Linked DNA regions of Homo sapiens: all the other regions are linked to region 1. Evidence: fine-mapped expression QTL. A gene starts in region 1. Each other region holds a variant in brackets. All regions are shown on one strand. Distances are between the middles of the regions.

The links. PIP is the estimated chance that this variant, and not a neighbour inherited with it, causes the effect.
Region 2: its variant is fine-mapped to the expression of ZNF117 in lymphoblastoid cells (CAP, PIP 0.95).
Region 3: its variant is fine-mapped to the expression of ZNF117 in whole blood (INTERVAL, PIP 0.96).
Region 4: its variant is fine-mapped to the expression of ZNF117 in sun-exposed skin (GTEx, PIP 0.98).

Annotation. Positions count from the first base shown.
Region 1 is chr7:64,989,674-64,992,382 of GRCh38, forward strand. ZNF117 (zinc finger protein 117) reads right to left here and starts at 1,363. Exons shown (of 4, transcript NM_015852.5): 1 at 274-1,363. All of the region lies in intron 1 of ERV3-1-ZNF117 (ERV3-1-ZNF117 readthrough), which reads right to left. ERV3-1 (endogenous retrovirus group 3 member 1, envelope) reads right to left here. Exons shown (of 2, transcript NM_001007253.4): 2 at 683-2,709. The coding sequence ends at 1,539.
Region 2 is chr7:65,188,824-65,191,532 of GRCh38, forward strand. It overlaps the pseudogene INTS4P1. Among named protein-coding and RNA genes, the nearest start is that of SNORA15B-1, 120 kb to the left of the region's middle. The variant G/A (reference allele first, on the strand shown) is at 1,115.
Region 3 is chr7:64,893,003-64,895,711 of GRCh38, forward strand. It overlaps a transcript of ZNF273 not described here. Among named protein-coding and RNA genes, the nearest start is that of ZNF273, 8.9 kb to the right of the region's middle. The variant A/G (reference allele first, on the strand shown) is at 1,238.
Region 4 is chr7:65,048,910-65,051,520 of GRCh38, forward strand. It overlaps the pseudogene CCT6P3. Among named protein-coding and RNA genes, the nearest start is that of SNORA22C, 16 kb to the right of the region's middle. The variant G/C (reference allele first, on the strand shown) is at 1,376.

The DNA.
Region 1 (2,709 bases):
GACAACCTACAGACTAGAAGAAAATATTTGCAAACTATGCTTCTGACAAAGGTCTAAAATCTAGCATCCATAAGAAACTTAAACAAATTTATTTTAAAAAAAAAGAAGAAGAAGAATAAGCCAGGATCTGTGGCTCATGCTTGTAATCCCAGCACTTTGGGAAGCTGAGGCAGATGGATCATGAGGTCAAGAGATCCAGACCATCCTGGCCAACATGGTGAAACCCCATCTCTAATAAAAATACAAAAATTAGCTGGGTTTTGTGTCACGCACCTGTGATCCCAGCTACTCAGGAGACTGAAGCAGAAGAATCATCTGAACCTGGGAGGTGGAGGTTGCAGTGAGTCGAGATCATGCCACTGCACTCCATCCTGGTGACACAGCAAGACTCCATCTCAGAAAACAACAACAACAACAAAAAGAAAACCAAAAACCTAATTAAAAAGTAAGCAAAAACATGAACAGATACTTTTCAAAAGAAGACATACATGTGGCTGACAAGCATATGAAAACAAAATTCACGTTGTTAATTATTAGAAAAATGCAGAGAAAAACCACAGTGAGATACCATCTCATCCAGTCAGAATGCCTATTGTTAAAAAGTCAATGACAGATGCGGGCTAGGTTGCAGAGAAAAAGGAATGCTTATATGTTGTGGGAATCAGGAGGCCGGAGAGATCACTGGGTGCAACAGGAAGGTTTTATTTAGGTGGCCACTGGCCCAGCGGATTAACATCCAAAGGCTGAGCCCTGAACAAAGACAGGGCTTGACTTTTATACATGCATCAGGCAGGGGCAAGTCGGGTTTTTGGCGCAAAACCTGCGAGGTGAGAAAGCAGTCTTACAGAAGCAGAACAAAGGCAGTTAATCATACCGTGACAGGTTTTACAACAGGATTTGCAACATGAGCCTACCTTACTTAAACATGTCTTGTGACCTTGCCATGCTACAGAAAGAAAAACAAGAACTTACAAAATCTTTACAGACTTGCAGAAATAGTTACAAAAATAGTTGTGAGAGCAGAACAAAGAATAATGTTATGGGGAGAGAATTTCAAACAGGGAAACTGATAAGGAGAACTTGTTTTTCTCATCCCTGCTCCTGGAGCCCACTCCTTCGGAGCCCCTGCCTGGCCTTGCAGATAATTATCATAGCTCCAGCAGGACTTTGGAGTGAGTCAGACTGGTCAGGAAAGGACTTGTTTTCCCTTTACTTGTTTTTCCTTTTATATTTCCTGCTTCATTCCCCCCTTTGATGCTTTTTATAAGTAAAGTTTAAGAGAAAGCATCACTATCTTCATTTACTTCAAGAGGAAGTAGCTCTTTTCTTGGCAGGGGTTAATACTTAGTTAGGGCCATTAGTCGTGTGGTAGTCCGTCTGTCCACAAGAGCCTCTATGGCTGTTTGGATATTTTTGACAATGAGGGGTAAGAGACAAGGGAGTATAAGGCAAACTCCCAATATGGCTAGGACTATTTGTACTAAGGTTTTAAATCCTCCAAGGGATGAGAACCAACCTCTGAAAAGGGAATCTGGAGACTATCCTTTCCAAGTCTGAACTGGGATGTGAGCTAACTTTTGGATTTTAGCAGTTATTTCTTTGATGACCTTTCCTTCGTCATCAAGTTCCAGGCAGCAGTTAGTAAGGTTGAACTTTCCGCATACTCCCTCTTCCTGGGCTAGGAGGTAGTCTAAGGCCAGTCTATTTTGATAAATGACATTTCTCATTTTTGTGGCTTGCTGGGCAAGCAGATTCAAGGCCCCTGCAGTTTCATTGGTAATGATTTCTAGTACTGCCTGCAATCTTATAATGCGGTTAAGCATGTAAACTGGGGTGCGGTATCCCCACATTCCATCTTCTGCCCAGGTGGCTGGGCCATAATATTGAATTATTCTTTCAGGAGGCCATTCATTGTCCTTCCAATCTCCTATAGTTATGCCTCTTTTGCTTTTCCTTTTAGTTTCATCATAGATGGGGTATCCTAAGGCTTCTCCCTGTTTTAGGGGCATTAGGAAGAAGGACGGCCTAATTGTCCCCAGTACACAGGCCCCTGACCATTTAGCTGGCAGTTGTCGATATGCTTGTGGCCCACAGATCCAGTAGAGGCCAGAGGGTGCCTGCCAGGTATTTGGAGCTTCAAGTTGGTACCAAGAATGGTTTAAAGATGGGAAACGAGAGAATGGGCTTGGGTGTGGTGATTCAGAATTATTGCTTTTGCCCCTCCATAAAGTCTTTCCTAGTGTCTCGTTGTAATATTGTTGTCCTAGGCAAGTTAACTCTCCTACTGGGTCTGTAAAGGCCTTTCCCCAGCGAGCAATACAGAATTTTCCAATAATGGAGGTTTTTAAGAACCAGATGCTCTGACTTGATGGTGCAGGTTCGAGGGAAGAGGCGGTTAGTGTGAAATTATCTTGGGGCATTAGTTCCCTTGCTTCCCATGGCCATTGGTCTCCCATGTTCATTCCCCCACAGACATAACATGAAGCAACGTGCAGGCTGCTGGCTATGTTTTCAGCCAGTTGGGCGAATAAATTACTGGCCAAGGGAGGGGGCTCAGGCAATTTCTGGTTAACATGCTCATAGAATGACTCAAAAACTCGGAACTGTTGGGTTGAGCGGGTCCGAGTTTTCTTTATGATATATAGATAGACATAGGCTCCTGGGCCAATTTCTTCACCGCTGACTCGTGCCCCTAGCGGTGCTTTTAAA
Region 2 (2,709 bases), 200 kb after region 1:
AAGGGGAGAAATGTTATTTATAGAATCTCCTAGCCTTTTTTCCCCTTTGTTTTGTTTAGCTCACATTTTTAATGTGCTTTTATGTGTTTGTGTGTGTGTTACCAAAAGCTGAGCCACCAAACTTAATGACTCTATAATCCCACTGTGTTTGCTTAGTTGCCAGGTAGAAAACTGGTGTCATCAGCTGTTTCTCCCAGCATCATACCTCAAGAGGATCCTTCGCAGCAGCTCCTGCAGCAGAGCCTTGAAGGAGTGTGTAGTCTTCAGCACTTGGACCCTCAGGGAGCCCAGGAGCTGCTGGAATTCACCATCAGGTAGGGTAATCATCCCTTCATCTGACAGAGTTAGTGCCGTTACACTCAGCTTGACTGTTCTGAATTCTGGTGTTGGTTACTAGGCTTGATATTCTGACTCTATTGGTCTACATTCACACACGGTTTTATGGTCTGTTTATATTTGGATTAGATTGTGGTTTGAACATATTTTTTAAAAGAGCTCTTTATATTCATGACTCGATTGATGATTAGTACACAACAGAAATAGTTACAAAGAACCTGTTTTTAGTTTTTTAATTTTATATATTAGGATGAGTGACCAAAATGCAAAGTAACAGTGGCTAAAACAGGAGCAAAGTTTAATTCTTCCTCATAGGCAGGACAGGGCTGAGATGACCATCAAGGATCTAGGCTTGCTCATTCTTTTTTTTTTTTTTTTGAGACAGGGTCTCACCCTGTCACCCAGGCTGGAGTGCAGTGGCATAATATCAGCTCACTGCAACTGCAGCCTCCTGGGCTCAAGTGATTCTCCCACTTCAGCCTCCCAAGTAGCTGGGACCACAGGCATATGCCACCACACCCGGCTAATTTTGGCTTTTTTTTTTTTTTTGTAGAGTTGAGGTTTCACCATGGTGGCCAGGCCAGTCTCAAACTCCTGAGCTCAAGTGATCCTCCCGCCTCGGCCTCCCAAAGTGCTGGAATTACAGGCGTGAGCCACTGTGCCCGGCCTAGGCTCATTCTTTCTTGTGTCTTCATCTTCTGCATCAAGCAGCTCTGCTTAACAATTCAGAATCTAACTGTCCCCCCTGTATTCCATCCTGTGGGGAAAAGGAAACGGG[G/A]AGAGAAAGGTATCATCTCCACCCTGTGGTTTGTTTAAAGACACTTCCCAAAAGTTGTACACTCTAATTTTACTTGCATTCCATTGACTAGAACTTAAGTCACATGGCCATCTCTCACTTCAAGGAGCGAGGACATGCAGTCTTTATTCTGGGTGACTAATGCCTGGTTTACATGCGATGACTCTAATACTCAGGAAGAATGGGAGAAAGATATTGGGGAACAACCAAAAGGCTCTGCCAGACCTTCCTCAAAATGGCCTGAATGATATGAAAAGAATTTAAACTCATTTGCTTTTAGCAAAAGCAGTATTGTTTGCTCTTAAAAGATTAAAAAATCATGTATTTTAAGAGCAAACAGTACTGCTTTTGCTAAAAGCAAATGAGTTTAAATTCTTTATTGTTTGCTCTTAAAAGAGAAAAATATTATATCGGCCAGGTGCAGTGGCTCATGCCTGTAATCCCAGCACTTTGGGAGACCGAGGCGGGAGGATCACTTGAGGCTAGGAGTTCAAGACCAGCCCCACTGAGTGAAACCCCGTCTCTACTAAAAATAGTAGCCTGTAATCCCAGCTACTTGGGAGATTGAGGCACAAGAATCGCTTGAACTCGGGAGGCGGAGCTTGCAGTGAGCCAAGATCACGCCACTGTACTCCAGTCTGGGCAACAGAGTGAGACTCCATCTCAAAACAAAAAAGAAAGAAAGAAAAATATTATATTATATCATTTGTATCTTGGTTGAGATCTCTTTTGATCTGCCCGGAAGAGTATTTGGCACCAGCCACATTCAACTAATAATTTTTAGTGGATGATTTCATTCCATACACTAAGAAACAAGCTCTGTGCTAGATACAGATCAGCTAGCTAGGATTCTGCCCTTAGAGAGCCCATGTAGACAAGATGGATATAGACAAAGACTTATGATGGTGGATAACAGCGCTTTGTACTTTGTTCATGCTTTCCTGTCCATTATTGCATCTTAACATGTTATAAAGCTGGCCAACTGAACCATCCTCCAAGTTATGTTTTCCCATTACATTAGGTCATTCATTCACTTAGCAGCATTAACTATTTGTTTATTCTAATAAGCCAGTTGCTGAGGGTAGAGAGAAATAAGAAATGACATTTGTTCTTAAGGTACTCACTGTTTATTACAGGACGCAGAAATCATCAATTTGATAAATGATACAGTGAAGAGAAGCATAGATGCTGTGGAAAAACAGATGAAAGGCCCTGACCCATCACAGTAGTAGTGGTGAGGGATGCTTCACAAAGGAGAAGATCCTTTAGCTAGTATGAAATGATAACTGAGCATGTCAGTTTCGTAGTCCATATGCAGAAGAGAATTCCAACTTCAGCAGACATTAGAAGAGCTGGGAGACCTGAGGGAGAACAGCCTCCCAGAACTGCAGTGGTGTAGTATAGAGATTGAGTGAATGGAGCTTTGAAGGCAGACTCATTTTGGTTAACGTCTGAGCTAATACAGTCATGCACTAAATAACAACGTTGTGGTGGTCCCATGATTATATTTTTACTGTACCTTTTTTATGTTTAGATATACAGATATTTACCATTGTTTACCATATTTACCAATATTT
Region 3 (2,709 bases), 97 kb before region 1:
CAGGTAGCCCTTTTCTATTGGCACAGCTGCCGGCATTCACCCTTCCAAGCTTCCAGCTTGCTTATCTATGTTTGCAGCTCCATTTTTCAGGCTGATCTTTGTTAGTAAAGAAAAAAAAAAATTTGTCTTCCTTTTGCTAAAGGGAAGCTCTGCCAAGTACTCTTTTATGCTCACTGTCTGTCAAATATTTTTTTTCTACTTTCTGTATCATTAAGACTCATCATCACTCAGAGACAACCAAACACTGTGACATTTTGATATAACCCTTTCCAAAAGTGTATATTTTTCACAGTTTTGAGCACGCATTGCATACCATTTTTTCACTGAACACAATCTATCATGAACATCTTTCCATAACTTAAAAGAAGCTGCATGCCAGAACAGTCCATCATGTTCTGTTTTCTTTCAGAAATCTTTAGAGATGGATCATTTTCCTTACAAGAATAGATACCAGGTAAGAGAAGCAGCCTTTAAAGCAGCGAATAGCAGCTCATGCATGCTAATTATTTGCTTACTTCTCTGGCTCCCCTATTGATGGCATCTTGAGGGCCGGTATGAACATGTCATGCAGTCTCCAAGCAACCCACAGTAGGCCCACCATAAACAGATGTTGTGGCCAGCATGGGAGGTGCAATGGTGAGTTGCTCTGTTTCCTCCCTCCCGTCCCCCTCCCCACCCCTCCCCTCCCCCTCCCCTCCCCCTCCCCTCCCTTCCCCTTCCCTTCCCTTCCTCTCTCACAAAACAGTCACAGAGAGAGGACAGCAGCGTACATGGTGAGGTGCTGACGATTCTGGTCCACTGGATCCCACCATCCCTAGGACAGTAAATACCGTCCTAGTCACTACCCAGCAAGTTACCACCGCATCATTTCCTGCATGTTCCAAAATGAATAAAGGTAATTAAGCATAAGTGCAAATAAAAAGTCATTTCTCATGTTTTTAATCTAAACTGTCACAGTTTAGTTTACTATTTTAAGTTCTTTTCGTGCTAAAACATTTGTTTTTATTTATTTATTTATTTGAGACATAGCCTTGCTCTGTCGCCCAGGCTGGAGTGCAGTGGTGCAATCTGGGCTCACTGCAACCTCCGTCTCCCGGGTTCAATTAATTCTCCTGCCTCAGCCTCTAGAGTAGCTGAAACTACAGGCGCGTGCCACTACACCTGGCTACTTTTTGTATTTTTAGAAGAAACAGGGTTTCACCGTGTTTGCCAGGCTGGTCTCACACTTCTGACCTCA[A/G]GTGGTGCACCAGCCTCGGCCTCCCAATGTGCCGGGATTACGGGCATGAGCCTCCATGTCCGGCCAATCATTTGTTTTTTTAAAGTGGCAGCCATAGGTCCTGTCCGTCTGGATATATTTTGAACTTTTGTATGTTAAATATAACACTAAAAAACTTTATTATGTTTTAGGTAATCTAAGATTGGTGTATACAAACAAACTTTACAGATTACTGTAGGGTTCAGGAAATGATGTATATAATATGACATTTATATCTCTAGTTTCTTATGTATAAATCTTCCTTTAGAAAAGATTGGCTTTTTAAAAAATGTCTCCACAAATTTAGGCTTATTTTATAAAATGTCACAACAGTAAAAAAAAAAAAATACTTTTTACCTTTCTAAAAAAGTAAAATACTCTTTTGCCATTTCATAAAATAAACCTGAATTTGTCATACTATATAAATACTGGTACTCAAATAAAATACCAACTATTTTAATCAAAATTATTTAGACAGTCTATTTATATAATTTTATGATTTTTAACTACAGTGATGGGCATTCACAAATCTTTCATAAATCAAACATATTAGTATTAGGTTTTACTTAGTAGTTATATACGAAAGATCGGGCCGGGCACGGTGGCTCATGCTCGTAATCCCAGCACTTTGGGAGGCCGAGGCAGATGGATCACGAGGTCAGGAGTTCAAGACCAGCCTGGCCAACATAGTGAAACCCCGTCTCTACTAAAAATACAAAAAAAAAAAAAATTAGCTGGGCATGGCAGCGTGTACCTGTAATCTCAGCTACTCAGGAGGCTGAGGCAGGAGAATCACTTGAACCCAGGAGGCAGAGGTTGCAGTGAGCCCTAATCGTGCCGCTGCACTCCAGCCTGGGTGGCAGAGCGAGACTCCATCTCAAGAAAAAAAAAATTTGAAGATCTTTTCAAAATGGAGATTTTTAATTAATAATTTGGTGCTTTCAAATACACTGAAGTCTTGTGTTAATCACAGTAAGTCTGGGGATAGTGAATTAATTTTATTTTTTTATGATGTGTTCAAAAATTTTTAGTTTAACCTAATATTGATTGATGATGAGTAAACAAATTGATTTTTTTCAAATTTCATAGGTCTATTAAATTGTCAAAGATATTTTTAATTAAAAAATTCTGTCTTTCAATATTGTTTCAGGGATTTAGATCTAGTTGAATCTGCTCAACCTGTTAATCAGTGTCATGTGCCAGATTCCGATTCACTAACAGTGTGCCTGTATGACTTTTCTTTCCATAGTCTTTGAATGAAATTTTTATTACTTATTTGTATGTTATATAGTACAGCTCATACATTTCAAACGAAACCACAGGGTAAAATGAGTTCTGGCTTAGTATAAAAAAGCTGTTGGCAACTCAGTATTACATATACAGATGGATGTGGCTCAACAAGAATTTAGACAAAAATATTGAACTGTAACGTGTTGCCATGATTTAGTCTCTAA
Region 4 (2,611 bases), 59 kb after region 1:
GACTACCAAGTATTCATTCCTTAACACTATTACATAATTAATTTAGAAATGTTTTACTTTTAAAACTTCTGGATAGGTGTAATTAAATTCTTAGATAGCGTTAATGTACTATTTAAAAAACACACACAAAACATTATCATTTGTAAAACATGCTTTATCATCTATTCATCTTTGTGAATCCGGTTTTTCTTGATACCATGCCATCAAAACAAATTTGACATAAGACTGCCCAATCATCCATAATTTAAAGTTGGTGTTTGTCAGAAGAATTTTATTGTTCTCATTATACATGTTATACATTTGAGCTTTTTTTTTTTTTTTTTTTTTTTTTTGGAGATGCAGTCTCACTCTGTCACCCAGGCTGGAATGCATGCAGTGGTGCCATCTCGGCTCAATGCAACCTCCACCTCCCAGCTTCAAGTGATTTTCCTGCTTCAGCCTCCTGAGTAGCTGGAACTACAGGCACGTGCCACCATGCCTGGCTTTTTTTTGTGTGTATGTTTTTACTAGAGATGGGGTTTCACCATGTTGGTCAGGCTCGTCTCGAACTCCTGACCTCAAATGATCCACCCCCCGCCTTGGCCTCCCAAAGTGCTGGAATTACCGGCATGAGCCACCACACCCGGCCACGTTTGAGCTTTGAAATACATTGATAGAATAAAATACTGCTTTATTCTTTTTTTGTTTGTTTTTTGAGATGGAGTTTCACTCTTTAACCCAGGCTGGAGTGCAGTGGCAGGATCTCAGCTCACTGCAACCTCTGCCTTCCAGCTTCAAGTGATTCTCCTGCCTCAGGCTCCCGAGTAGCTGGGATTACAGGCACCTGCCACCAAACCCTGCTAATTTTTGTATTTTTAGTAGAGATGGGGTTTCACCATGTTGGCCAGGCTGGTGTCGACCTCCTGACCTCGTAATCTGCCCTCCTCAGCCTCCCAAAGTGCTGGGATTACAGGTGCAAGCCACCACACCCAGCCTAATCTGTTTCTTATGTTATAGATGCACATAAAATTTCATTTAGAAAAATGTTCTTGTACTACAATATTTAAAGCTATTGAATTATGATTCATAAGTTTTATTTTGTAGTTAGCATCTCTAGGGGAATTTCAGGGACACTGTTGGCTGTCTTGTGATTACCGATCCTTTTAAAAACTCGTTGTATTTGAGAAGTAAAATAGTAGAATATATATGACAAAATCGGGAATTAAAGTAGACAGTATACTCAATTCCACTGTGTTTAAAGAGTTTGATTAATTTCTATACATTGTGCCAGTGGTTAAGATCTGGGACTCTAGAGTCAACCTGAGTTGAAATCTTGGCTCTGTCACTTGATCTCTTGTCTCAGCTTCTTCCTCCATAAAATGAGGGTAGTAATAGC[G/C]TTAACTCATAGGATTATTGTGAATATGAAGTGTACCAGTACATGTAAATAGTCCTGGTGTCTGGCATAAAGGTACTCATAAAACATAGTTACTATTATTTTAGAACATGGTTTAGATCTTCCTGTATGTTTAATTTGTCTTTTCCTCACTTAACATATCACGGCAGGGCACGGTGGCCATAATCCCAGCACTTTGGGAGGCTGAGGCAGGTGGATCATCTGAGGTCAGGAGTTTGAGACCAGCCTGGCCAACGTGGTGAAACCCCATCTCTACAGCCTGGCCAACGTGGTGAAACCCCATCTCTACTAAAAATACAAAAATTAGCTGGGCATGGTAATGCACACTGATGGTCCCAGCTACTTGGGAGGCTGAGGCAGGAGAATTGCTTGAACTGGGGAGGCAGAAGTTGCAGTGAGCCGAGATCATGCCATTGTACTTCAGCCTGGGCGACAGAGTGAGACTGTCTCAAAAAAAAAGAAAATATTACCACTATTTTCCCATGTTGTTAAAAATTCCACCAGTAATGGAAGAGAATATTGGGTGCCCTGTGCCCTTGCCAAATTGGGCATTCTCATTTTTTAGATATTTGCCAATATGATTTATGAAAATTGTCATGTTATTGTTTTGATTTGCATTTTCCCCAAGCATCAGCAAGATTTAATGGTTTCACATTTAAAAAATTTATTTTTTAATTTATAATCACCTTGTTTGATAATGAGGTTTTCATGTTTTTATTAACTGTGTTTCTTCTCCTGCCTGGATAAATTTTAGAATTTTTCACATCGATTTAGACGAATGCTAGTACAAAGGTTTTTTTAAGTCTATGATAATTTTAATGATTTTTCTTGGTAATTTTTGTCTGTAGATTCAAGTTCAGACAGGCACTTCCCATTCTGATATTGTGTAAATATATGTAATTTGTTAGTTCTGAAAAACATGACTTCTTTAACCTCCTAGAATGTAGTTTACTGGGTGTTACATGAATCTACAACATAATTTTTGTACAGACAAAAATTTTGCATTTCTTCTGGATATTGCCTGTTCATACCTTTGCCCATTTTTTCCCTTTCTGGGTTGTTTATCTTTTCTTCTTATTGCTTTATAGGAGTTCTTTAGATGTCACAATGGTTAATCTTTTGTTATATGTGTTACACATTTTCTCTTCATTTGTTATTTGTCTTTTAATTTTGTGTTATGGTGTCTTTACATAGAAGTGTTAACTTAGGTGGTCAGAT